Linked DNA regions of Homo sapiens. The protein of the gene in region 2 interacts with the protein of the main gene of each other region in a pairwise test. Each region holds a gene or a part of one and is shown on either strand. Other genes may lie near its edges.

Evidence for each region.
Region 1: the proteins of EXOC1 (region 2) and GOLGA4 interact in binary tests that used the Homo sapiens proteins (3 or more experiments, as listed by UniProt).
Region 3: the proteins of EXOC1 (region 2) and CCSER2 interact in a two-hybrid assay, tested with the Homo sapiens proteins (2 studies listed by BioGRID and IntAct).
Region 4: the proteins of EXOC1 (region 2) and TRIM9 interact in a two-hybrid assay, tested with the Homo sapiens proteins (2 studies listed by BioGRID and IntAct).

The regions. Positions count from the first base shown.
Region 1 is NC_000003.12:37,323,265-37,330,291, reverse strand, and holds part of GOLGA4 (golgin subfamily A member 4), read right to left. Parts: intron 6,705-7,027; coding exon 2,467-6,704; intron 1,877-2,466; coding exon 1,755-1,876; intron 1,330-1,754; coding exon 1,199-1,329; intron 1-1,198. UniProt on the Homo sapiens protein: Involved in vesicular trafficking at the Golgi apparatus level. May play a role in delivery of transport vesicles containing GPI-linked proteins from the trans-Golgi network through its interaction with MACF1. Involved in endosome-to-Golgi trafficking.
Region 2 is NC_000004.12:55,856,638-55,863,664, reverse strand, and holds part of EXOC1 (exocyst complex component 1), read right to left. Parts: intron 5,352-7,027; 5' UTR 5,342-5,351; coding exon 5,218-5,341; intron 3,255-5,217; coding exon 3,124-3,254; intron 1-3,123.
Region 3 is NC_000010.11:84,373,582-84,380,608, reverse strand, and holds part of CCSER2 (serine-rich coiled-coil domain-containing protein 2), read right to left. Parts: intron 6,991-7,027; coding exon 6,794-6,990; coding exon of another isoform or gene 6,704-6,793; exon of another isoform or gene 6,608-6,703; intron 1-6,607. UniProt on the Homo sapiens protein: Microtubule-binding protein which might play a role in microtubule bundling.
Region 4 is NC_000014.9:51,092,092-51,099,773, forward strand, and holds the start of TRIM9 (E3 ubiquitin-protein ligase TRIM9), read right to left. Parts: upstream 3,015-7,682; 5' UTR 2,849-3,014; coding exon 2,027-2,848; intron 1-2,026. UniProt on the Homo sapiens protein: E3 ubiquitin-protein ligase which ubiquitinates itself in cooperation with an E2 enzyme UBE2D2/UBC4 and serves as a targeting signal for proteasomal degradation.

The DNA.
Region 1 (7,027 bases), on a different chromosome or scaffold from region 2:
GAATCACTGCTCTACCACTATGTAGTTTTAGGGAAATTACTTAACTACACTGAACTGGCTTTTCCTTCTGAAAAACAAAAACAGAAAAAAAAAAAGTAGAACTAAACTAGCTTTACTGTATCTTCCAACACTCTCTAGGCATTCAAGAAATAATACTTTTTTTTTTTCATTTAGCACATATATCCTCTATGGAAGTATAAGAAAATGTGAAATTATTTAAATCTTTTCATAATGACATATAAAGCTCAAGAATTATAAAAGGTGGCATTTATAGGCATGTGTTATATCTTGGAATTCTAGCCATTTCAATTACATTTAAAATAATTATTAGAATCTGTTCCCGACTCAGACTTCTGCTGACATAGTCAGCTGAGGTATGATTCTTTGATTTATGAATTCTTAATCACCAAAAGATTCTTAGCATATAGTGAAATAAGGCTTAGAGCAACTACAGAATCTGTAACCCAACCAAGAACAATTTATATTGTATTACATTTGAAAACATTTTCAAATGTTAGTCCAAAGTACTAACTAGCATTTATGATTTATCTTCATGGTGTATCTTCATGGCTTATCTTATTTTGCTAATGGCAATGCATTAGTGGCATATTCTGTGAATTGCAACATGGCATTAGTAGAGTAAGTATTTTGAAATAACCTTCCACTAAATATAAAAGATTTGGCTTATGCATTCCATTTTTTCCCAGCTTTCTTCTCTTGAGACCAATCAACCTCCACACACTGGGTAGAGATAAGAGTAAAGTTGATTGTCCCTCCCAGAAAGATTCCAGCTAAGTTAAGCAGCCACATTTAAATACACACTCACTATCCCATTACTTAGACTTCACCGAAGCACAGGGTCTTGATTCTTAGTCTGGTTCCCCTCACAGTTCAGTCAGAATCTGTGAGGCAGATGGGAAAGAATCTATTCTTCCTTTTAGTATCTACTGTTGCTTCAATACTAGCAAGGGGACTGTGCTGCCTAGTTAGCAGAATCTCATCAGGAAACTACAATCCTGGCAGAAATCAACTCAACTTTATAAATCTGCATATAACAGTACTAATTTGAATAATATTGAGTCAAAAAAAAAAACCCTTTTCGTTCAAAAAACACATTTGAAAAGGAAATCTTTGGCACTACCATGAAATCTATTACAGCTAAATTTCAAAAGTGAGAGAGAAGAAATAAGGTACAAACATCAAGGATTTCTTCATATCTTTTGGCTGTTCGTTTTAGATCATCATCTTTCTCAGCAATTTTTTTAAGTAACTGATTTGTCTCTTCTTGATGGCTTTCTAAAAGTTCAGCCTCCACCTCCTGGGCCTTATCTAATAAATAAAAATGAACACACACAAGAAAACACATTAGTCAAGAGTTAATATTTGTATCTCAATTTCAGTAACAACTCTCATTCCAATTAATTTTGATGAAATTTAATTTTATATAAGCATTTTAAGATGTTTAATGAGACATCTAGCTCAACAGTGATCAAATGTATCCTCTCCCTGAGCAAAAGTGTCTTTACAAGGTAATTAATTAGCTAATACTTTCAGATTGTTTTACCTGCTCCCTCTCTCCTTAAGGTAAGTCATTGCCAAGCAGGGCAGGTTCCCATTAGAGAATGTTATTGGGCAAGGATTATTTCTTCCCCAGTTTAATGACTTAATGCACTTACCACCACTGCAAAAATGATAAGCTTAAATTATAGCCTCTGCTGATATAATTGTTCCTTATGGAACTTAATTTTACTTACTGATAGTTTCTTTTATGGTCATTTCCAGCTCTTGTTCCTTTTGTGCCAGCTGTGTATTAAACTCCCTCATCAGCTGTTTTAATGTGGAATTGTGCTTCAGTTCAAGATCTTCCTGCTCCTGTCTGAGTAATAAAAATGTACCGTTAACTGCTGCCACACAAAGAACAAGCTGCAAGGAGCTACCTGGTCTTTAAAACAGTGCATACAGTATGAGTTCATTGTATGAAAACATTTTTGAGAGAGAGAGAGAGAGAGAGTGTGAGAGTGAGTGTGTGTGTGTGTGTGTGTGTGTGTGTGTGTGTGTCCAGGTACATATCAACTATGATTACCTCTAAGTAGTGGTCCTGGGGACCAGAGAATTTTTGTTTTCCACTTTAATTTTTTTTTCAAAACACATCTATGTTATATAATAATAATGCTAATACTAAAAACAACAAAACAAAAAGAAAATAATTACTTGGATATGTCCCTAATAACCAGAATCTTATATGCAAGAAAAGGTTTTTCTCTCCTAAATGGACATGGAATAACACTGCCACTTGCCCTAAATTGTTTTTATTTCTCCTCATATTTAACATATTGGATTTATGTTTAATATTTTGGGTTGGTGAAACTTATCCAAATAATTTAAAATAACTGTATTAGGCACAAAAAAAGGAGACTTAATTAAGAAGGACTGCCATAAAAATATTCAAGCTGAAATAAAACTTACTTGATTTTCTCTTCCCTTTCTTGATCATATTCTTTCTTTAGTATTTCCAATTCTTGCTGATGCTCCTTTCTCAACATTCGAAGGTCTTTCTGCAATCTAACAATCTCCTTGCCCAGTTTCTGTTTCTCCCGTTCTGCCCCGGCTAATTTAAACTCCAGATCATTGTGCTGGGCTTCCATGTTACTAAGCAATTTGGGTTGGACCAAATGTGATTTGGACTTTTCTTCAGTGTTTTCTTCCAAAAGTTCTGTGGGTTTATTTCTTCCATCCATCTGTTGTAAAGCCTGTAATTTTTCATATTTTGAGGTCAACTCTTCCATTTCAACTCTATGTACTTCTTTCTGTCTTACTAAGCAGGAATCCAGCTCTTTTATCTTTTGCTCCAAAATCTGACAGGTTAGTTCCTTCTCCTGGAGGGTTTTCTGGACGTCGTCAAACACATTTTCCAAGTTTTGCTTTGCCTGTATGTTATTTTTACCTCCTTCTTTTTCCACATGCTGGGCTACTATCAAGGAATATTTCTTGTTTTTTTCTTCAAGCTCCTCTTGAAGATGACCTATCATACTTTGATCTTCATGTTGCTTTGCCTCAGCATGTTCTAGCTTTATTAAGCGCTCCTGGTATTGGCATCGCATTTCAAAATGAGAAGAAACTGTCTCTTCTTTTTCCTGCCCTACCCTCTGCAATAGCTTTTCTTTTTCAGTTAAGTTTCTTTGTAAAACACTGATTTTTTCTTCATATGTCTTCTGCACACAGCCTTGGGAATCTGCTTCTTCTTGTTCAGTATATGCTGCCACATTTTTTGCTGATCTGGGTACAATTAATGTTTCTGACTGTGAACTTTCCACTGACTTAAGTTTTTCTTCCAAGATGTGAACTTCCCTTTCTCTTTCCTGCAATTTTGTATTTAGCTCACTCAAATGGCTTTCTGTACCTTTTTTATACTGTTCTTCTTTCTCTTCCATTTGAGATAACAACTGCTTCTTAATGGCAGCAATTTTTTGTTCAGCTTTTCTCTTCAACTCTGCTAATTTTGCAGCACTTTCTGACTCAAGCCTATCTTCCAATGCCTTTAACTCCTCCTCTTTGCTTTTCACACTTAAATTCACATGTTCTAATTCTTTCTTCTTAGTTTCAAGTTCAGCTTTCATGGAATAAACTTGGTTTTCAAGTGTTAAGATTTTTTCTTCAGCTTCTTTAACCCTGTTGTCCTTTTCTTCTCCTAACTCTTGAAAATGTTGAAGTTTCTGAACCAATTCTTTGTGTTCAATATCCTTTTGTTGATTGTAATTTTTAAGAACTTCATTTAAGGACTCTATTTCAATAGTTTTCTGGGTAATATGGTCCTCTAATTCCATAATTCTTGCTGTTTGAGACTTTAACTCTGTTTCTAAATTAGACTCCTTTTTCTCCATCTTGCTCTTGTCGTCTTCCATTTCACCCTTTAAACAATCAAATCTTTTATTTTGCTGATCAAGCTCTTCCTTCAATAAATTTATCTGCTCATCCTTTTCATAAGCTTCCTTTGATTTTAACTCAAGCTGGATCTGCAATTCTTTAACAGTGTTTTGATGCTGTGTAAATCTTGACTGTGCTTTCTTCTTCCATTCTGAGAATTTATTGGACCAGTCATCTACCTGCTCAAGAGCAGAAATTTTCTCTTTACTCAGAGTGTCAACTTTAAAAGATAAATCTTGCACCTGATCCAGCAATTCACATTTTTCTTCATCATACTGCTTTCTTAGTGATGAAATGGCTGCTTCTTTTTCGGATAGGCTGATGCTATTTTGAAGCTGAACATTCAAATCAGTTAGTTGTTTACTAAGACTGCTAATCTCAACTTTTTTTTCTTTAAGCTCTTCTTTCATCAATGTGACAGCATTGATGTTTTCAGATAACTCTTTCTTCAACTGTGTTATACAAGACTCCTTTTCAGAAGCAGCCTGTTGCTGATTGCCTCCTTCCTTCTGTAAGGCTTCTTTTTCTGTTACAAGACTTTCAATATCAGCCTTCATGCTCTTAATTTGATTTTCTTTTTCTTCTAACTGATGAGTAGCCTGTTGAAAAGAAATATTTAGTGTATTTTGCTCCTCTGTCAACTGTCTAAGTTGTGCTTCTAATTCAGAAACTGTGCAAGTTTTAATTAACAGTGCCTCCTTAACTTTAGTTGTACGGTGCTGACAATGAGAAATCCTAGAAAGAATGGCATTAGTTTTACTACTACTAATGTTGATTAGCTCATTTGTTTTAGCTTCTAATAAGGCTTCGGTTTTCTTACAGCAAATATCTAGCTGAATCGCTAGTTCCTCAGACAGTTTTTTAAATTCCAAGCTCTTGTCCTCTAGGCTTTTGTTACTTTTTTCATGTGAAGATTTCAAACTCTGGAATTCTTCATCTGTGGTTTTCAACTTGCTAGTCAACTCAGAAACCTTCCGCTTATCTTCTTCTGCCAGCATCTTCAGTTCAACTAGCTGCTCTTGAAGAAAAGTATTTTCCTTCAGAGACTTATTCAAGTCAACCTCTAGCTTTTCAAGATGAGCTTTCAGTTTAGTTTCATCTTGTGCAAGAGAATTCACATGGGCAGACTTCTGCTTTAACTGTTCCTGTAATTCATTTAATGTTGTATCCTGCTTAACACCTTCTTCCTTCAGCCATGTTATTTCCTTGTTCATCTCTTCTTTTTCACACCCAAATAGGAGGATCTTTTGTTTCAGTTCTGCTACCTCTTGTTCTTTTTCCTGTAATTGGATTTCATGTATTTCCTGAAGTTCTTCAGCTTGCTGATTAAGTTTCTTTTCCCAGATTGATATGACATCATTGAGTTCTCGTCGATGAACCTCAGTAAGACTTTCTATTTGTTCTTTTTGGTTTGTTTCCAGTCTTGACACTGCATCACTGATTCCAGCTGAGTTAGCCTGTGCCATTTCCAGCATTTTGGCATTAAACTGTTTTTCTTTCTGACTAAGCTCTAGAGCAGTATTTTCAAGCTCTTTCTTAAGTTTGGCTTCCTGATCCAGTAATTTTTTCTTTAACGTTTCTTGCATCTCCTTTGCTTTCTGCTTAACTTTTTCCATCTTTTTTTCTTGGTTTTTAAATTTGGTTTCATATTCCTCATTCAAAATATGAATACTGTCCTCCTTGGCTGACAATTTCTGTGTGAGTATCTCAATTTCTTTCTTCTGTCCTTCTCTCATTTGTAAAATCATATTTTCCTTTTCCACCAAGATTTGCTTTGTCTGTTCCTGTTCTTTGTTACCATCTTCAAGTTTGGACTCATAGACTTGGGTTAAAGATTTTACTTTTTGCTCCATTTCACTATTTTGTTTTTCAAGTTGCTGCATTAAGTCCTGCACCTGGATTTTGTGAGCATCTAACTCAGTACAAACATCTTTCTTTTGTGCTTCAACTTCAGCAACCTGTTTGGTAAGAAGAATTCTTTCTGTTTCCAAATCCAACAACTTCTGCTGCAATTGGGCCAACTGTTCCTCATATGCTTTTGTCTGCTCATGTGTGGCACTCTGGTAAGACTGAAAAACGTCCAGCTTAGCAGATGCCTGCTGGAGTTCCCCTTCAGACCTTTTAATATCTGCCTCTAAATTTTCTACATGAGCCTGATGCTCTTTCAAATGCTTGTCCCTTTCCTTCAAGAGAAGCTCAAGTTGATTAATTTGATCTTTTAATGCCTTCTCAGTCCTCTGGATAGATACCTCGTGTTCTTTAATGATACTGTCAACTTGCTGCTGGTGATGATTTTTCTGTTCATCCATCTTGGCCTCTAATTCCTGCTTCATTTTATCTGTTTGATCTTTCAGAACAGAAAGTTCCTCTTCTAGTTTGTGACGGGCTTTTAATACTTCTGACAGTTCAGAAGATAATGATTCTAGTTCTGTTTGCTTCACATCAAGCTTTTCTAAAGTCTTTTCATTCATTTCTTCTATGTGGGCCTGGAAGATAATCTCTTTGTCTTTCAACAATGTTTCTTTTTCTTGTTCACACTTTTCCCTAAGTTTTTCCATTTCAGTCTGATATTGTTGCTTTAAGACTTGGAGTTTTTCAGTCCAAAGGGCATCCTGCTGATGCTTAAGGCTTTCCAATTCTGTCTTGTGTTTTTCAACCATGACTGTAATCTCCTTATTGTGCTTATTTTTTTCAGCTTCCAGATGAACAGCCAAATCTTTTGACTGATTTTTGTTTTCTTGTAAGCTTTTTTCCAAAGAACTTTCCAATTCAAGAATTCTCTGTTAATTAAAAACAGATGCATTTTTATTAAAGTACGTACTTGTCTACTAACAATGATACACAGACATGATGTCTACCACCTACCTGAAGATCAAAATTATCATACCAAACACTAGAAAAGACAAAGAATCTATGCTCAATTACTAAAGGAATCATATAACAAAGAAAAGATTATGGCAAGGCACAGTCCAACAGTTTGGGAGGCCGAGGTGAGCAGATCACTTGAAGCCGGGAGTTTGAGACCCAGCCTGACCAACATGGCAAAGCCCTGTCTCTACCAAAACATACAAAAATTAGCCGGGCATGGTAGCATGCGGCTGTA
Region 2 (7,027 bases):
AGATATCTTGAAAGCTAAAAGTGCTGCTAGGTCTCAAAGTTCTTTATTTTTTTGAGACAGGGTCTCACTTTGTTGCCAAGGCTACAATGCAGTGGTGCAATCATGGTTCACTGCAGCCTCCACCTCCTGGGCTCAGGCAATCCTCCCAACCTCAGCCTCCTGAGTAGCTGGGGACACGGACACATACCAGCATGCCTAATTTTTAAAATGTTCTTGTAGAGACAAGATCTCCCCATGTTATCCAGTTGATCCTCCTGCTTCGGCCTCCCAAAGTGCTGGAATTACAGGCATGAGCCCTGTTCCTGGCCTAACGTTCTTTCATGTGATAAAGAAGCTCAACCAATCTGAGAGAATTACACTATAGTTTCTTCAAGTCTCTTAAGCCACATTATAGCAATAATCCACATCAGGCTAATATTTCTCCCTTGAATGAATAGAACTACTTGACTATTATATAAAAAAACAGGCTGGGCTTGGTAGCTCACGCCTGTAATCCTAGCACTTTGGGAGGCCGAGGTGGGTAGATTGCTTGAACCCAGGAATTTGAGACTGGCCTGGGCAACATGGCAAAACACTTCTCTACAAAAAACACAAAAATTAGCCGGGTGTAGTGGCATGTACGTGTAGTCCCAGCTACTCGGGAGGCTAAGGTGGGAGGATGGCTTGAGCCCGGAAGGTGGAGGCTGCAGTGAGCCAAGATTGTGCCACCGCACTCCAGCCTGGGTGACAGAGTGAGACCCTGTCTCAAAACAAACAAGCAGACAAACAAACAAACAAACTTATGGATGTATACTTCACATCCAAGGAATTAAAAAATAGGCTCAAATATTCTTAATGTTCTACAGGGTAAAAGAATAATAATATATTTGATTCATTTAAAGTGTTATTTGGGGGAAATGTAAATACATTAAAGTAAGGGAAGTTATATCAGACTTTCACTGTGAAGAACTGGAGTATCTCAGGAATCAGGACTTGACCTTTGGTACAACAATCATATTACAGCAGCATGGAACTACTAATTAGTTCAATTTATAGCTTAATAAACAGAATTGAAGCGTCAAAAATTTAAAACCTGCATATACAATGAAAAGGTAATTGCATTATTACTTACAAAAAAACACAACAAGAGTATTGGCAACCAATATGAAACTTGATGGGAAATAATCTCTTCCCTGGGAATATTTCCCATAATACCATAAAAGAAGCTGAGTGCTCCAGTGGCAACACTCACAAATCAATGTGTGATACTAAATGGCTAATGTTAAGTTATGTATAAAAATTTTATGTTTTATATCCATATATAGCATACACACACCAAGGTGCCTACATAAAATGCAAAAAAAAAAAATCCATTAAGCAAGTCTGCAAGAGGCATCAGCTGTGAGAATGCATTCAAATAAGCATTCAGCAATGTTACTGAATTATGCAAGTCAACAGGGTTACGAAGTGCAAAACTACTGAAGGGAAAAATGTTTTTTAATAAAGGTGCAGTTTTAAAAACCCTTAAAGTGTTTTGTCTTAACAGAAAACAACCAGAAAAGTTTCCACTCTTGATCCCTCCCCATGGTAATAAAAATTACTTACAGAAGTTTTTTTTTGTTTTTTTTTGTGGAGACAGAGTCTCACTCTGTTGCCCAGGCTGGAGTGCAGTGGCGCAATCTCGGCTCACTGCAACCTCTGCCTCTCAGGTTCAAGCAATTCTCTTGCCTCAGCCTCCCAAGAAGCTGGGACTACAGGCGTGTGCCGCCACGCCCAGCTAATTTTTTGTATTTTAGTAGAGACAGGGTTTCACTGTGTTACCCAGGCTGGTCTTGAACTCCTGAGCTCAGGCAATCCACCAGCCTCGGCCTCCCAAAGTGTTAGGATTACAGGCGTGAGCCACCACGCCTGGCCTAAATTATTTTTAAACATCCCATTATAATTTTCTTTCCAATCTCTAGCTTTCTAAATTTCTGTCAAATCCTGTTTCTACATTTCACATTTTTCTAAGCATTGGGTGCTCCTTAGGGATAAAACAAAGGGCCAGTAAGCCTAGAATACTTAAAGAAAAGGCATGATTTACATTTGGAAGAAATCTGAATTATACAGATATAGAGGGCTCTCCTCAAATTGTTCTTACTTCATTTTTTTTGCACCCAACTCAACTACCTGTCATTTTGTCCAGATTTTTGATCCTTGGAGGTTTGTACCAAAGTAAGGGTAAAATCAGAATTTTATTTTAACAGATTGCTTTACACAGGCAGTTTTTTTGTTTTTTGTTGTTTTTACTTTGTGCCTTTTTAGTAAATGTATGAGATTTGTAGAGTCAAAGAGCACCTGTAGTTTCACTAGTATAAGCCTTGCTATTATGTTCATCCCATCGACATACAAGTAGTTGTGGTACAAAGTATTCTCTTGTGCTATGGAGGTGTGTTAGGGCTGCAGAGAAAGATGAAGGGCAGAGTGAGAGAGGGCCAGGGGGAGGAAGCACCTAATTTAATCAAAGGAGGCCAACTTGATTGCTTTGAAAAAAGGGTATTGCTGTGAAAGCTTTGAACTGTCAGGAACATAGGTGGTCCTTTAATGTGATTATCACATTAATCACCTTTCTTGGAGTTTGAGTGTGGTTTATCTATAACGTGTAAGTTTATATCTTCATAGATCTTATTATCTACATTCCTTAAAATAAGGTATGTAACCCACTATCATTTCTTTTTTTTTTTTTTTGATCCACAAACATCAAAGCCATGGTGGCCTCAAAAGGCCAGTCTGGCTGCCCCAGCTGGTGATTCTATGTTTACTCATGAAGACTAAGGAAGGATCACTTTGGTTATATGATTTTGATTAAACAAACAAACAAACAAGCAAAAAAAACTCATGACACACCACTTTAAAATCCATACTATGTATAGATTTTATACAAATTATACTTAATCTAAACACAGAAATGTATACAGTCAAAGTAATTTTTCTCTAGTTTATGTAGCTTGTGCACAAACATAATTATAGCTTAAAAAAAGCAAAAAAATAAGAAAACAAACATATATATTAATTTGTTTTTAGATCATTTTAGAATATGTAATACCATGTTATAAAATGAAAGATGCTTTCTGAACACAGGTCAAAGAACTGAGAAAAACCTACTTTGATAGCATCTTTGGCATCTACCACAGCAAGATCTCGAAGGGCCCATGCAATCTGCCTTTTGTAGAAATCTCCCTTATCGGATTTCTTGACTTTGACCACCTTAACCTGCACAGGGCGTTCAGTTGTCACTGTTGAGTAAAACGCACACTTTTATTAGAAATATTACCCCTTTCACTCATTCTTCATTCACTCATTGCAAGTATAGCTTTCAGGTGCCTAGTAGCTGATACTAAAAGAGGTGTAATACTTTGCAACAAGTGCTATGACCGAGGAAAGCACAGAATCCTAATAGAAGCATCTAAGTCAGACTAGAAGATCAGAGGAGATTCCTTGAAAAATAAAGGAATGATATATTAATAATAAATTCAGACCAGTTTTAAAGAAAAGTATGAGGTAAAAATCTAAAGAATGATTGACATAAGTAAAGTCTGTGAGGCTTGAAAGAGCAAAATACCATTTCAAAGAGCAACAATACATTTATATATAAAGTTCTTACTATGTTGCCCAGGCTGGTCTTAATTAAACTCCTGGGCTCCAGCGATCTGCCCACCTCAGCTTCCCTAAGTGCTGGAATTACAGGCATGAGCCACTGCTCCTGGCCTAAGAATTTCTTTATAGCAATGCAAGAATGGCCTAATACAAATACATTACGATTGAGTGAGGTCATTCTAAAAAGTCAATTTATCATTTCAAAAACCAAGTACAATTATATACTACACTAACAAGGAAGAAAATTTTATGATATCAATGATATGAAAAAGCAGTTGATAAAATTCAACTCCCATTCATGATTTTTTAAAAAAGTGTAAGAAACCAGGAATAGAAGGGAACTTACTTAACACTGTAAAGTATAGCTATAAAAACCCTATACCAAATACCATGCTTGAAAATGAAGTCATTCTCCTTGAGATGGAGACTGTATTGATAGTCCTAACTAGGAAACTAAACCAACAAAAATAAAAGATATAAAAACTATAAAGGAAGGAAGAAAAATATCACTACTTTCAAAAAGTCTACATATAATTAGAATTAATAAGAAAGTTTGGCAAGATTGATAGACATCCATATAAAACACCAACAATTCATTGTAGAATTCTAACAATATATGATTTTAAAATGTATTAATGTTAATAAGCGCTTTCACGACTATCAAATAAAATCTAAGAATAAACCAATACTCAGGAGTAAATCCAAGAATATACATGACAAACCTTTAGAGAAAATGATGAAACTTATAAAGTTAAAAAACACCTAGATAAATAGAGAACTGTACCATGTTCATGGACACAAAGATTCAATACAATAAAAATGCAAGTTCTCTCCAAATTGAACTATAGGTTCAAAACAATTCCAATCAAAATCCCAACAAAGTCTGAAACTCGACAAGTTGTTTCTAAAATTTAGGTGGAATAAAGAACAAAAACAAAATAAAAATAACATATAAGATGACAACCAGAAATGCTCACACACACCATGACAGATGTCAACACAGGTGAACTAAGACTAAACTGTAAAAGGCAAAATTATAAAACTTTTGAATTTAGGAAAATATTTTTATGACTGCACAAAAGATACAGGGAAGGATCTTTTAAGACACCAAAAGGGAAAGCCATAAAGGATTAATTAATTTCATTTAGTTTAAATTATAAATTTCATTAACAGGCATCATAAAAAGTGAAAAGACAAGCCACTAACTGGGATGCATACAACCAACAAAAGGTTGATAACCAGATTATAGAAAGAACTTGTACAAATCAGTAAAAGGACAAGCAACACAACAGAAAAATGAGTAAAAGGCTTAAACAGGTAAATTTCATACACAACAGAATGAAATGACTAAGAAATTCATGAGAAGATGCTCAATCTCATCATTATAGGGAAATATAATTTAAAACCACAATGAGATACTATTTCACTGCCACCAGATTGACAACAATTAACAGCCTGTCAAAGCCAAGTGTTAACTAGGAATGTGTTGACCCAACAATTTTTCCAATTACAGAGACAATGAGGATATTCAAAACAAAGAGGAAATATCTTCTAAATAATAAAAGGATACAAAACAAGTACTCTTTCTTACTAAATACCCACCTGTGGCACATAAAAAACAGTTCTTTTTCTTTTTTCCTGCTTTGCAGACATTCACAATGCTCAGCAGGCGTTCATCATTTGGTGTAAAAATGTCTCTTTGTAATGCATGCTTGATTGCTGTCATCTTTTCTCAGCTGAAAAATGTGGAGTATAGATATTAAGCTCACCCTCAACATCATTCCATCTTATACTTCTGAATTTATGATTTGAAAATAATTTTTGGTTAACAAGCCTAGGAAAAATGATTTAATATATGAATACACCTATATCACAAAAATACAAAGCTGTAAGTTTGGAAATAAAATTAGAGAACCAGTGTTATCAAACTCTAAAATGTTTGGAAATGCTCACCAAGTATACACACACACACAAGATTTAAGAAAAAAATCTTCAACCCACTGCTCAAACTTTTAATATAGTTTTCTACATAAAGAACCCTTACAACAATAAGAAGACAAATAACCCCATTAAAAACTGAATAAAAGACCTGAACAGACATTTTTCCAAAGATATACAAATGGCCAATAAGCATATGAAAACATGCTTAACATCACTGGCCACTAGGGAAATGCAAATCAAAACCACAATGAGGTATCAACCACTTTACACCCATGAGGGTGGTTAAAATAAAAACGATAGAAAATAACAAGTGTTGGTGTAACAAGTGTTGGTGAAGATGAGAGGAAACAGAACTCTCATACATTGCTGGTGGGATTGTAAAATGGTGCAGCCACTTTGGAAAACAGCTTGGTGACTCCTCATAAAGTGAAACATGGGCTACCTTATAATCCAACAATTCCACTCCAGGAGAACTGAAAACATATGTCCACACAAAAATTTGTACATGAATGTTCATGGTAGCACTATTTGCAATAGCCAAAAAATGGAAATAACAGAAATGTCCATCAAATGATACATAAGCAAAATGTGGTATATCCATACAATGGATTATTATTCGGCTGCAAAAAAAACAAAGGGCCGGGCACGGGCGGTGGCTCACGCTTGTAATCCCAGCTCTTTGGGAGGCCGAGGCGGGCGGATCAAGAGGTCAGGAGATCGAGACCACGGTGAAACCCCGTCTCTACTAAAAATACAAAAAAATTAGCCGGGCATGGTGGTGGGTGCCTGTAGTCCCAGCTACTGGGAGAGGCTGAGGCAGGAGAATGGCATGAACTCGGGAGGCGGAGCTTGCAGTGAGCCGAGACTGCGCCACTGCACTACAGCCTGGGAGACAGAGCCAGACTCTGTCTCCAAAAAAAAAAAAAAAAAAAAAAAAAAAGAAAAAAAGGAAATGAAGTAATGAAACATGCTAAAATATTGATGAATCTTGAAAAGATTATGCTAAGTGAAAGGAGTCAGCCACAAAAGACCACGTATTGTATGATTCCATTTATATGAAATATCCAGAGTAGGAAAATCCATAGATACAGAAATATAAGTGGTTTTCGGGAGCTGGAAGGGAAGGTGGAAACGAGGATTGACTGTTAATGGGTATGGAGTTTCTTTTTTGGGGTGATGACAATGTCTTTCAACTAGATAGTAATGATGGTTATACAACCTTGTGAATATGCCAAAAATCACTCAATTATACAATTGAAAAGGGTAAATTTTATGATACATAATCTCAATAAAACTGTTATAAAAATAGGTTTCCACTTATCTCCTTTTTCTTATCTAACTCAGCATCTTTTCAAACATCAACTTAAAATAATTTTAAATCTCTATTTTATTTTTCATATACATATTTGTGTGGATATGTATTACAATTTTTCAATGCAAATGTGTAGTATTTCATACATGTGAGCTTGCC
Region 3 (7,027 bases), on a different chromosome or scaffold from region 2:
CTTAATCATTATGCAATAACATCTCTCTGTAAACAAAATACCTCTATGGCCTTAGGATGGGAATGGGTGTCTTACACACACACGCCATATATGAGCATGTGAAGCAAAAACAATGAAGTAAAACATTACTAGATTTAATTGTCAAAAGCAAAAACTATGAACGGTAAAAAGATACAAAAAACAAAACAGAAGCAACAGGCTCAGAGAAGATTACTGCAACACATTTAACAAGAATTAAATTCCAACCACATAAAAAACTCTTCCATATCAATAAGAAAAATGGCAAAACCCAACTGAAAAATCACTGAAGTAAAAATTTACATAAAAGGAAACAAAACTGCCAGTAAAATGTGTGAAAAAAATGACAAAATCAATAATAGTATAAATGTAAATTAAAATTATGTATCATCTCACACTCACCAGACTGATTAAAATGTTGAAGTCAGATGACGACATATGGGGTTCAGATGATAAGTGACAGAAATTCTCATCCTCTACTGGAAGGTATACACTGGTAGGACCATTTTAGGGAGAAGTTTGATAATATCATTAAAGTTGAAAATACACTATTCCTAGTTTTATATCCTAGGAACGCTATAGCTAGGTTTATATCCTAAAGAAACTGACTTATATGATCAAAGAGAATTGAATCCGAATGTTCACTGCTACACCATGTAGACATTATTATTAGCAATAAAGAATAACTGAAATGTAGATTAGCAGGGGAACAGAGAAAAATACAGGTATATTCAAATGACAGAATATTATAAAGTAATAAATATGAATTAGAACTACAATACAAATACACATATACACAAAAAACATAAAATTGAGTTAAAAAAGAAACCTGTAGAATATTACATATCACTTACCTAAGTTGTAAAATACGTACAAAATCATACTGTATATTGTTCATGGATATATAAATGCATTAAGGATAATGGCCTATACAACATGCCTTAGAATTCACAATTTTAAAACAACGCACATAAAAAGAACTAACTGCTATATTTACTACTAGGGTGTTTACTGAATGCATTCTTTCCCAAATAATAAAGGCTTCTCTTTATGAGAATTCATTCATATGCCAGAGAAGGGAGAAAGGCTAAAAATCAATTATCTAGTTTCCATGTCAAAAACTTTGGAAAAGAAAAAACAAATTAAACTAAAGAAAAGTAGAAGAAAGGAAATAAAGATATAAACCAAAATCAATAAAAACAGAAAATAAGCACAATATAGAAAAATCAGCAAAGCCCAAATTTGGTTCTTGGAAATGAAGAAAAAGAGAGGAAACACCAATAACCAGTATTAGGAATGAAAAGCAGACGTCCCTATAAGATGTTAAAAAGAGGATAATCCTAAACAACTTTCACCAACAAATGACAAGTTTAGATGAAATGGACAAATTTTCAAAAACCAACACGAATATACATACAAATTTTAATATGCCAATATCTAAAAATTAAAACTGTTATTAAAAACCTTCTCATAAAGAAAACTCCAGGTCCAGAAGGCTGAATTCTGGCAAATTCTTTTACATACCTAAGGAATAAGCACATTAGTTGTACACAAATTCTTTCAAAGGACAGAAAAATAAGAAACACTTCTCAACTCATTATAAAGCCAGCATGATCTTGATACCAAAACATGGCAAGAACAAGTAGAAAAACAAGAAAATTACAGAGTAGAACAATCTTACTCATGAACATACATGCAAAAACATAGACTATTAGCAGAGCTGGGTATAGTGGCATGCACCTGTAGTCCCAGCTACTTGGGAGACTGTGGGAGGAGGATTACTTCAGCCCAGGAGTTCAAGGCCAGACTGGACAAAAAGAGACAGACCCTATCTCTTTTCTAAAAATTAATTTTTAGGCCGGGCGCGGTGGCACATGCCTGTAATCCCACTATTTTGGGAGGCCAAGGCGGGTGGATCACCTGAGGTCAGGAGTTCGAGACCAGCCTGGCCAACATGGTGAAACCCTGTCTCTACTAAAAATACAAAATTTAGCCAGGCGTGATGGCAGGCGCCTGTAATCCCAGCTACTCGGGAGGCTGAGGCAGAAGAAACGCTTGAACCTGGGAGGCAGAGGTTGCAGTGAGCCAAGATTGCGCCATCGCACTCCAGCCTGGGTGAGAAGAGCGAGACTTCGTCTCAAAAAAAAAAAAAAAAAAATTTAATTTTAAAAAATAATTTTAAAATATAAAAATTAGAAAATCTAGTTTAACAACATTTGAAAAGATAATACATCACGACCAAGTGAATGTATTCTAAGAATGGAAAGGTAGTTTACTATTTGAAAATCAAGCCATGCAATCTACCACACTAACACAAAAAAAACTTCATTATCTCAACAGACGTAGAGAAAGCATTTGGTAAAACTTAATATTCATTCACAACAAAAATTCAGCAAACAAAATAAAAGAGAATTTCCATACTCTGATTAAACTCCCTCTCAACTCCCAAAAACTTTAATGGTGAACTATTAAGGCTTTCTCTCTGAAATTCTATCACCATTTCAATTCAACATCACGTTGGTGGTCCTAACTTGTGTAATAGGGCAAGCGCTGGGGTGGTGAGGCAACTTTTTTGCAAATGGTATGATTATAGAATGTATATACAAGTTCCAAAATCATCCAAAGGCAAATTATTATAACTAGTAGATGAATTTACAAGGTTATTAGAAAAGTCCAATATACATGATAAAAATCAGGTATATTTGTATATACAACAAAAACTCATAAAATTATAAAAATGGTACCACTTACAGTGTCAAAATCAAACATGCATAACATTTTATAGAAAAGTACAAAACATTAGCAAGAAGTATTTCTAAAGTCTGAAATTAATGGAGGACTATATCTCCATCATAAATATGTCAATTCTCTCCAAAATCATCTATAAATTCAATGCAATCCCATTCAAAATCCCTGCAGGTCCTTCCTGGAAACGGACAAGCTCATTCTAATATTTAATTGGAAATACAAAAGGTTAAGAAGTGCTACAGAAATCTTGGAAAAGAACAAAGCTGGAAGACTTACCCTACCAGGCAGCAAAATTTATTTTAAAGCTACGATAATGAAAATAACATATAACTGACAAAATAAACAGAAATATTTGTCTATGCAATGAAATATTTATATATGCAGTCACTGATTTATGACAAAGATGACCCTGAAGTACAGTGGGGGAAAGATGACTAAAATAAATTAATCGTGACATCTATCTCACACCATACAGAAAAATAATTTCCAGATGGGGACTAGAGACCTACAGGTAAAAGGTTAAAAATAAATAATGCTTTTAGAGCAAAACATTGAAACATATATTCATGATATTAAGGTGGGAAAAGACTTCACAAACAGTTTTTTAAAAAGTGGTAACGGTAAAGGGAAAACTTGTAAAACTGGACAATATCAAAATTGGTAAGTTCTATATCAACAGACACTAAGAGATTTCAAAAGCAACTCACAGTAAAGAATACACTCTACATATATAAAATGTAAATATACACATGAATACAAACATCTACATATTGATATAAAATAAATATTTATGTCAAAAAATATGAAGAATTTTTACAAATCATTAAGAAAACAAACCCAACACAAGACACTTCACAGAAGAGGATATATCCTAATGGCCCAATAAACATATGTGAAGGTGCTCTGTGAGTAGTTATCAAAAAATACAAGACAAAATCTCAATGCAATACTACTATACCCACAAAATAGCAAAAATGCAAAAAGGCAGAAAGCACCAAGAATAGACAAGAAGGTGAATTTTCCGGAATGTTCATTTACTGCCAGTGGGGAGTGTAAACAGGCACAATCACTTTGAAACACTGACAGCATCTTTATCCATCAGCATAGCCTATAACCCAGGAATCTCTCTCCTACACATTTTCCCAACAAAAATGAATAAGTGTTCACCAAAAAAACATATATCAAAATCTTCACAATCATGCAATACTCTAATAGCCAGAAACTGGAACCAACCTAAATGCCCATGAACAATAAGATAAGTTGTAGTATATTCACACAAAGGAATATGATACAAGAGTAAAGAAACTACAACTGACAAATACATAATATTAATGAAAAGAAGCTAGATATAAACCAGCACCTTTATGATTTCATTTATATAAAGTTCAAGAACAGTCAAAGCTAATTTATAGTGACCGAAACCAACAGTGATTGCAGAGTAAGAGAATGACTGACTGAAAGGAACAGAAAGGGAACACTCTGGAGCGATGGGAGTATTCTATATCTTAATATGGATGATTGTCAAACAAGCATACAAATTTATCAAAATTCTCTGGTCTGTCTGCAGAAGATTTGTGCATTTTACTGTACGTAAATCAGACCTCTGCATAATACTGGTAGCATGTAAACAAATAAATAGCCAGGATTCTAGACTGGTGTTATGAAAAGTAATCAGTCTACAAACTATTTGTTGGGATCCTTGACATGATTAGGAGATTGCATCAGAATGTATATCAACACATTGTTTCTTTCAAAAAGGAAGACTTACTACAAAAACAATGTCAGCAGAAATGAACAGTGGGTGGAACTAAACTGTGTTAGAAGTGACACAGTTGATGTACATTCTAGTGAAAGCTCCTTATCTTTACCTGGACTGGTAGAAGCAGTGTTGCAGAGACAAGAAAAGTGAGAATATGCTAAAGGTCTTGAGGGGTTAAGTAAGAGATACTACTTTGAACCACTGTAGGAAAAAAAAAAAAGAAAAAGAAACAGAAAAAAAAAGCAAGACAATTTAAATAAAAATAATAAGATGGCAGAGTAAATACAGTCCAAGTATAACAATACAAACATAAAAGGATTAAACTCACTAGTCAAAAGAAAAAGACAAACTGAAAATTTTAAAATAATAAACTATTTGCTATACATAAAAAAGGCTGATAGTAAAAGAAGAGAAAATATATAAATAAAACTGGTAAGGTATATTAATATTTGGAAAAAAAGGAGTGTGAAAACAAAAAGCATAGTTAGAGATAGAGAAGATCACTAAGTAATGATGGAAAGTCCAATTCACCAAAAAAAAAAAAAAAACAAACCAACAATTCTGAACAGGTACACGCCTAAAATTTATACAAAACAAAAAATTCACGTAACTTCAGAGCAAAAATGGTAAATCCTACATCACTGTACGAGAACTCAACACATGGTTCTCAACTTTTGCCATCAACTCTCTATTCTTTCTCAGACTTTGTCATCTTCTCCTTAGATCAGAAGAGAAAGACAGAAACACCATCTTGTTCCAAAGCACAGAATGGATGTTTTTTTCTTCCCATACCAATAGACATAAACCTACTGAACAAGGAGGAAACTCATGGATCTTAAGGACTAACAGTTAATCCAGATGCATTCTGAAATCTTTGACAGAAAGCTATTTTGTGATTAGTTACAGGAACAATGAACTGAATCAAGGTGGTTAGCCTCCAAAAACTGTCAGGTACTAAGTGGTTTATTGCTGCCATCTGCTGGACACCTTTTTCATTTGCACTTCAATCATATTTGCCTTAAAACTCCTAGTAAGACAGCATATAAGGTCTTAAACTGTTATCTTTTCTGAGCCTCCTTTATCTAATGAGATGAAGACACTGTCTCTAAATTAAATGTTTGTATGCAAGGTGTTGACAACGGTTAAAAAAAATGTTTGTGCAATTTAAGCCTCCGTTAACAATGGCTTAAGTAAAAGGTTTATAGGAGTATAGAAAATTACATTGCCTGAAATCCACTTGGAATTTAATATATCCACAGACTACCAATTTTCCCATACAACTACTGGAAAATCGTATTTTATATACTGAATAACTGCAATGAGTCACTTTAAACATACCAATTACACTTTACCCATATGGCATATTATCCACATTACTTGCCATGTTTCTTAAAATATGCACATATAAATTCATGGCAGGTCTTCTAACACTTGCCCATAGCTGATTCCCTTGCCTTCCAGGCACACACAAAGATTACACTTCCTGTCCCTTTAGTACTCAGATGGGACCACATGATTAGTTCTGGTCAACAGATCATGAACGGAAGTGCCAAGTGTTGCCTGCAGGCCAATGCAAGTAATTATATGTGTGAGACCCTCTGGCACTCTCTTCCTCTGCCATAGTGAAAAGAAGGGACCTCAAAAGATGGTCAAGCCCCAAAATCAAAGTAGTTTAGATCACTAAAGACAGCTGCCCTAGAGAGCTGTCCAGACCCACAACAAACTTTCTAAGAGTAAAATAATACACTTGTATTGTATTATCCCACTGAGAGTTGGCACTTCAATGTTACCTCAGTATAGCACAGGCCAAGGTTTCTCAACAGCAGCAGTACTGCCATCTTAGGCTAGATAATTCATTGTGGTCTCTGTCTTGTGGACTGTGGGATGTTAAACAACATCCTTGGCATCTACCCACTAGATGCCAAGAAGCACTCATCAATATGACAACCAAAACCACCTCCAGTCATTGACCTCCTCCCCCAGTCTTTGAGAACCACTGGCATAGATTAAACTACTAATATAGTATGCACATATGTATGAGGAATATATATGTAAACATGTTGAGTATATTTAAGTCAAATGTCATATATTCTCCATGCTTTATTTCATATTAGAGTCAGATATTTTATAGGCTCTTAACAAATATGAATTTCCATTTCTCAAAGTAGTAAAGTTAATTCATAAATTTTTTACAAAATCAATCATATCACAAGTCTCTCTATAGTAGGGTAAACAAAATATTCCAAGAGTATATAAATCCATACATACTATGCTGTTCATTTCAGAGGACTCATAGCTCCCAACTGGATGGACATTTCCAATGGGTTCCAAGCCTTCTTCATCCCACATGTATGTTCCATCAGAGCTATCAGATGGAGAGAGTTCAAACGAAGAACCAGCTCTGTAGTCTGTATCTGGTGAAACCAAATTATTCCCAGAAGTATGTTTTGTACATTCACTCCTGTCTTCAAGAGAAAAAAGGTTACTGATTCACAAAAATAT
Region 4 (7,682 bases), on a different chromosome or scaffold from region 2:
AGGGCAATTCAACATGGACTATAATTAGCAGTTTAAAAGTGAAATCAAAATATGAATAAAAAACTAGCTGTGAACTCAAGTTTTGAAAACTTTCAAAATTAAATGTCATTTTCAAAAATTTAAATTCGACTGTTCTGAAAACAGTGGTGTGTGCCCAGTTAGGCTTCAATTTGTGCTAAATGAAATCCCCATCAGTACTAATATGATTTAATAGGTTATATGTGAGAATAGAATGACTGTAAACATGGATCACATTCAACCGGGTTAAGGAGTTGAGAAAACTTTCACTGATTGCTGAAAATTAATGACATTTTTTTCTTGCTGTAAACAAAATATCAATGTTCCAGCCTTAACTCCACAGTTGGCCACTTGCAAAAGCTACCCTTTCTAGTCTCCAAGGAATTCTGGGAGACTCTGAGCAAGGCCACAGCTGAGGCCTGGACACTATCTTCACTGCTCCATCTCATCCTTGGGTATGCAACTCAGTGATGTAAAGAAAAGCTCCTTCCAACCATCCTGAATCCCTGCCCTGCACTCCACAGCCCCAACTAAATGGATCATTTAAAAAATGAAAAGCAAATTCATGCACATCTCCTCAAGAGTTGCTCCCTTCCTTCTAAGCAGTGTGGGCATATTATAAGGATCTTCTTCCTCATGAGGCTTATTTCGTTTATGTCTGTGTGTGTACAGGGAGCAATAGATAAATACAAAAAATAACATAATTAAAATATATAGCATGCCACACAGGGATAAATACTACTGAGGAAAATAAAGCTGAGAGGGAACTAGCGGGTGTCTGGGTGGGTGGCGCTGCAAAGATGATACCTGAGCAAAGAGCTGAAGGATGCAGGTAAGTGACCCATTCGGATCTCAGGTAACTGGGGAAGAGAGCTTCAGGCTGAATGAACACCAAATGCAAAGGCCCTGGAGTAGGGAGGTGCCTGGCGTCGTTTGAGGAACAGTAAGAAGCAGTGTGGCTGGAGCAGAGGGAGTAAGTGGGAGGCAATGAGGTCGAAGGGGCCAAAATGGAAGAGGTCATGTAGGACAGGCTGAGAAGCGTGGGAAAAATTGGAGGGTTTTGAGCAGAGGAGTGGCACGACAGAATATGTTGCTAAAGCCTCTTCGTGTCTAGCCATGGTGGAAATATCATCAAAAGAGACTGGAAAGATAAATCTGGTAACAGGTGTCCCAAAGTTTGCACATATAACTACTGAAAGAGGAAAGGGCTTGAATTCCGGAGAAGTGGGTGTGTGTATAGTTGGGAGGAGAAGGTTTCCCTAGGAGATGCACCTGTCTGGCTTCCAGGCCGCGACTGCGCAAACTCCGGTCCTGACACTCTAGTCTCAGGTCCCAACTCCGGAAGGGTTCAGGCCCAAGCCTGCACGTCGCGTTGCCATGGCGACCGCTGGCTGCCCTCTCCGCTCTGTCTTTTGAGCACGTGGCACCAGGACCCCGCGTTCTCTCCAGCTCGAGAGCCAGGTCTGGCCCAGAGCCGGGCTCATCAGTATTCCGCCTGCGGCGTCTCCCCGACCCTCCGCCGTGCCTCACCAGGTCCGCCTATCCAGCAGCGACAGACTCCCGCCGTCCGCGCGACCCCACCGCCCCCATCCCAGTCCCTCCCCGAGGGTTCGCAGCCCGCCCTGCCCTCGAGCGTGCCTAGCGGCCCTGGGCACTGGCGCGGCTCTACCCAGCTATGCAGTGCTTTCCCACACACTGGCCGCGGCCACTGGCTGCAGACCCGCCGCGGAAAGGGGGCGCCCTGAGTCCCGCTCGCAGGCAGCGCGCCCCGAGAGACCCGCTCTAAGGCATCCCCGCAACAACTCTGTGGGGGCATTCAACTCCCCCGTGCGCCGGTTAAGATTCCCCCATGCCTCCTGCAATGCACCAGACCAGGGAGGTAAACATCGAAGGCACCTGCATTGCGCCCCCACTGGGATGCGCTGTGCGCAAGAGACGGGGACCGTCTGCTGCAAAACCGGATGATCGGAGACGCAGGGAGTTAGGAGTGGGTTTTCTTAGGACTCACCTTATGTAGTTTCCACATGGCCCCCAGAGCCTTGACTTCGTGGCTGGAGTGTTTGCCCTCCTCCAAGCACTGGTAGCACACGGGCATCTTGCATTGCACGCAGTACATGCTGTGGTTCTCCAGCTCGTGGTCTGTGCAGGTGGAGACCTTGCGTGGGCTCAGCCTCCGGCTCACACGACCCTGGGCCGGGGGCACCAGGCGGTGCTTGGCTAGGGGCCCCCGGGGCGGGTGGCAGCGCAGGCGGCACGGATCGCAGTAGAAGACATCGCACTGTTCGCACATGACGGTGGCTTCCTTGGGCGCCTTCTCGCAGAGCTGGCACTTGAGGGCCGCGGCTTTGCTCTGCTGGTAGCGGTCAATTACCCCTTCCAGTACGCGATTCTTGGGGAAGCCGCGGAGCCCCCGGTCATCCAGGATGAGGCTGCGGTGACACTGGGGGCAGGTGATACAGGAGTTGCGGGGCACCGGGGCCAGGGCCGGTGACAAGTGGGTGGCCGGTGGCGGCATAGCCGGGGGAAACACGCGGACGCCGTTGGGGGACTTCTGGCACGGGGTAGTGGGGGCGCTGGCGAACCCCCCGTAGGAGCCATAGCCGCTGTCCGCCTCGCTGTATAGGCTCATCTTGTCCAGGTCCAGATAGTCATAGTCGGAGACCCCGGAGCCCGCGGCCCGATGGCTCTGGGGGGATTCAGACTCTGGGGTCTGCACCAGGATGTTGCGGGCGCACGCCTGACACAAATTGTGAGAGCAGGGCAGGATGATGGGCTCCCGATAGAAGGAGCCGCACACGGGGCATTTCAACTCCTCTTCCATCTCCTCCATGGGGACCGGTCTGGGAGGAGACAGCGACGGCTGCAGCGGGTGCCTGAGCTGGCGAGGTGGCCGACGGGCCCGTCTTGTCCAGCACCCTGGCCAGCGGCGGCGGCTGTGGTGGTGGTGCCTTCCCGCGCAGCACTGGCACGGACACCCAGAGAGGCGCTAGCTCTGTGAGCCGCAGCCGCGTAGCCGCCGCGCCGCGCGCCAGCCCGGACCGCCCCTACCTGCCCTCCTAGTCCCGCCCCGGCCCATGAGCAGCGGCCCATTGGGCGGGGGGCAAGAGATCGAAGCTCTCATTGGCCACCAGACCCGTCCGTCTCCTCGTCTCCGCAGGCCACAGGGGGTTCGGTAGAGTCTGAGGATAGGGCAGTCTTCGCTCGCGGCTGCAAGATCTCTGAAGGGGGCCGGCGTGCGGAGGCTAGGGGACCGGGAAGGAGGAGTTAGGCGGGATGATTCATCCTCGCCCGGCTTACTTCCGACCTCCGGTGCAGTCTCCCAGGAGCTGGGGGCGTGAGAAACCCCTCCCCGCAGCGAGTGGGCTGCCGGAGGGGGCTGGGGCTTCTCGCCAGCGTTTGCGTTTGGCTCCCAGCTCTGAGCTCCGCGCCCACCTACCGCGGGCGAGTGCTGCGCAGCACGGAGGACGCCCCTTCTCTTCCGCTGCTGGCAGCCTTCGCAGGCGTCTCACCCGGGCCTAGGCTTCTGCACGGCAGTGGGGCTTTTCTCCTTCTCCGTGAATCCGCTGACGCCGTGCCCTGGAGCTCCCCCATCCCGGGAGTCTGACGGCGCTGGCGCAAGCCCTGGCGACACTCTTGGCTTCTTTCATCCTGCGTCCCTCGTTTCCTAAAGAGCATGTATAAAGTCGATTTCCTAGTGTCGACATGAGATTCAACTGGGTAACCGATGGAAATGGTCAGCATTAGTCAGAATCTATGACCCCTTCGTTTCATGCTTTAAATTATAGCTCGGCCCAGAGGCCTCAGTGCCGTGGTGTGAACGTGCTTCCTTCCACGGATCCTTCTTCCTCCTCGCGGCCTCCCAAAGCACCTGGCTGAGCTTTTTCGAGGCCCGCTGGGCCTTTGGTTCGGTTGAGGCAAGAACAGTTTGTCTATTTCTGAGTGCCCGTAGTTTAGTAAAGCTCTGTAAATGAATCACTGTGTGACTGCGGAGTCTCAGTGTTTCACTCCAAACAGCATTATTCAACCCCACGTGCCCTGGGCATCTGCCATAGCTTACAGCATCGTGTGCCTTTCTGTTTCTTCCAACGAGGGGCATGGTGAGGCGGTGATTCTAGTGTTAGTCCCTGTACAAGGAGGGAGGGAGGGAGGGAAGAAGGGAAAGAGGGAGAGAGGGAGGAAGGAAGGGGGGGGGAAAGGAAAGGCGGAAGGAAGGGAAGAAAGGGAGGGAGGAAGAAGAAAAGGAAAGGAAAATCTTTGAGTCAAGTGACATTCTGAGGTAGTAACATTTGAAATAGTACATAGCCGGCTTTTGCTGAATGATTCATGAAGTAAAGGACAAAAACTCTTTGCAAGTTCTAGAAATATTCCAATTTTCCACCTTCCAGACAGGAGATAACTTGATTATATGCAGCTATGTTGATAATTTAAAAGTACTTTATTGTCCAGAAAAAAAATGGACATTTTATTACACTGCCCTTGTAGAAATTGTCCAATAAACTAGGTTATCTTTTCAACATCTTTAGTTGCAGTGAGAACAGTAGTTGATCATTGTGTGGGGGAATAAAGTCCCCATTGTTATTTAAAGCCATGTTAATCATAAATGTGACGTGATTTATTTTTAAGCTGGCTTTCAACTAGTTGAGACCAGAGCATCCAAAGGTATATGCACTCTGTTTACAGACATAGATAAAATTTCTTCAGGTATGGTTGGGACATTAGCTGCACTTGCAGGATACACTTAATTTATAGGTCCCAAGAGAAATTACTAATAATTATATTCAATATAGTATTAATTGAATTGTAATGAAAGTTAATTATTGAGAAAATATTAGAAAGGAGTGTCCTTTTATGGCTTTTGTATGCATTTGACCACAAGTCACAATATCTTGGACCAGCAAGGTGAGCAGCTGTTACACTTTGTATGAGTTTGAACTCTGCTTATAATAGTATATCATCTAAGAGATCTTATTAGCAGAAAGTTTATGCTTAGTTCAAAGTAAAGAAGAATTTTAGAGGATGTCTCATGGTGTAATGCAGTGTTGGGTTCGCAAAAAGAACAACACAGGTTTATAATATAGTCAATATAGAAAGATTTGGTCTATTATGAAGTCGCTTGAGATGATTTCATTGTTAGATCTGTTTGTTTAGGAATTAGCTAAATCAGTCAATCCTAGGAGAGCTCTTAAAATGACTCATTTGTTGAGAGTTCACCCTGTTCCAAACAGGGGATTTATTTATTTGTATACATTACTTGGTTAAATCCCTGTAATTACAAGAAGAGGTAGGCACAATTATTCCCATTTTACAGATAAATAAACTGAAGATAAGCAAAGACACTTAAGTACTCAAGGTCAAATATGGTGAGGCTGGGATTGGAACCCGGACACATATAAGTTTGTTCCTTTGTTCATTCATTCATTCATTCATTCATTCAACAAGTGCTGAGTTCTACTCTCTTCAAGCTCTGAATGTGATAAGTACCCAAAATGTTCTTTGTTAACTTCTATGATATTCTGCTCACCTTCTCTGAAAGTTTACTTTTTTTTTCCTTTTTTTTTTTTGAGACTGGAGTCTTGCTGTGTTCCCCAGGCTGGAGTGCAGTGGCACAATCTTGGCCCACTGCAACCTCCACCTCCCAGGTTTAAGTGTTTCTCGTGCCTCAGCCTCCTGAGTAGTTGGGACTACAGGTGTGCACCACCATGCCTGGCTAATTTTTACATTTTTTTTTTTTAGTAGAGACAGGGTTTCACTATGTTGGCCAGACTGGTCTCAAACTCCTGACCTCAAGTGATCCACCTGCCTCAGCCTCCCGAAGTGCTGGGATTACACGCATGAGCCAGCGCTCCCAGCCAAAAGTTTACTATTTTTCTTTGAATCCATTTCTTTAAAATATTCTTGAAGGCCTTTGAAGATTTTCCCCTCATGTTGCACTGTTTGGCCATAATGTGCTTTATAGCCCCCCAATGACTTATGTTTAAAAGGGAATAAAAATTGAAATGTAATTGGTAATATTATAGAAATATTATACTATTGAGGGGATATCTTCTGTCTTCCAGCTGGTGATCAGTCCATGCCCTGAAGCACAAGGATTGATAGCCCTGTAATTTCATCATTCCTGGGATGATTGCAGATGTTCTCTTTTGTGTAAAGTGCCTAATTATCCTTTGAAACTTACTATTCACCCAAATTATGTTCTTTAGCAATGAGAGCAATTACATTTAAAGTGCAACAACAGCTTTTGCATTTTTAAAAAAAGATAAATGTTTTTCTTTTTTTGATAAATGTTTTTCAATGAAAAATTGAGTTGCTTTCCTATTTGCTTTTGACTACAATGCTTGATTATTAACAAAACAGTCTCTGTGAGTCTAAAGAATGAACACAGAGAAGAAAGGTTTTTCTTTCCACATTCTCTCCTAGAGTAGTCTATCCTTAGTTGTGGGAGGGGGGTGGAAATCAGTGAAAGGAGCTGATCTTAGGCTCTAACATTTTAAGATTATCTGACATGTATATAAAAATATTTTATTAAGGTATTTGAATAAGGGTCTTGCTGCATGTGGTTTGTAAAAGTACATCACTTGAAAAGTGATAAATGTGATGTTTCTATTCTCAATAGAAATTCTGAAGAAACTTCTTTTATGGAATAATTTACCCCATTTAGTCTACTAATATTCAATTTTATACTTATAATTTTGTACTATTCTTTAATAACATTTATTGTTGATATCCTTTGGTAATTTAAATTATTTGATTATTATAGTGAATTATGAGCTTTTTCCCATTTAGTACTACTGGAAGATGGCCATATTCAAATTCTGTAGTATTTCTTATTGTAAGTAATATATTACTGATGCTTTGGGAAGGGTAGACTGGAGAATCGGAGAAAATGAAGATTTAATGAATCCTATATGGAGGTAAGAGAGCTAGAGGATAAATCCAGAAGACCTAACTTGTGAATAATAGGAATCTCAGAATGAGGAAATAACACAGGTGGAGGGAAAACCATAGTTGGAAAACATTTCTCTGAACCAAAAAAATATATAAAATTACAGATTGAAAGGATTTTAGAATTATAGATGACATTAATGAAAAAAGACCCAGTTATATACAGACACAATTCTTAACTCAGAAGAAAAAAAAAAGATCATTTTACAAGCTCCCAGAAAGAAAGAACAACTTAATTGTAAAGAAAAAAGAATCAGATTGGCATTGGACTGCTTTCTACAACCTTGCAGGTGAAAATAATGTGAAACAAATTCTACAGCCTACTAAAACTGAAAGAAGTCACCCTGTCATAGTCCGTTTTTGCTGCTATAACAGAATACCACAGACTGGATAATTTATAAGAAACAGAAATATATTGGCTCATGGTTCTGGAGGCTGGGAAGGCCCAAATCAAGACACTGGCATCTGGTGAGGGCCTTCTTGTTGCATCATCCCATGGTGGAAGGGCAGAGAGAGGGCAAGATAGAGGGCAAGAGGGAGCTGAACTTCTCCTTTTATAAGAAACCCACTCCCGCGATAAGAAACCTATTCCCATGGTAATGGCATTAATCCATCCATGAAGGTGGTGCCCCTGTGACCTAAACACTTCTTAAAGGTCCCAACTCCTGACACCTTCTCACTGGGGATCAAGTTTCTAACACATGAACTTTCGGGGACGCAGT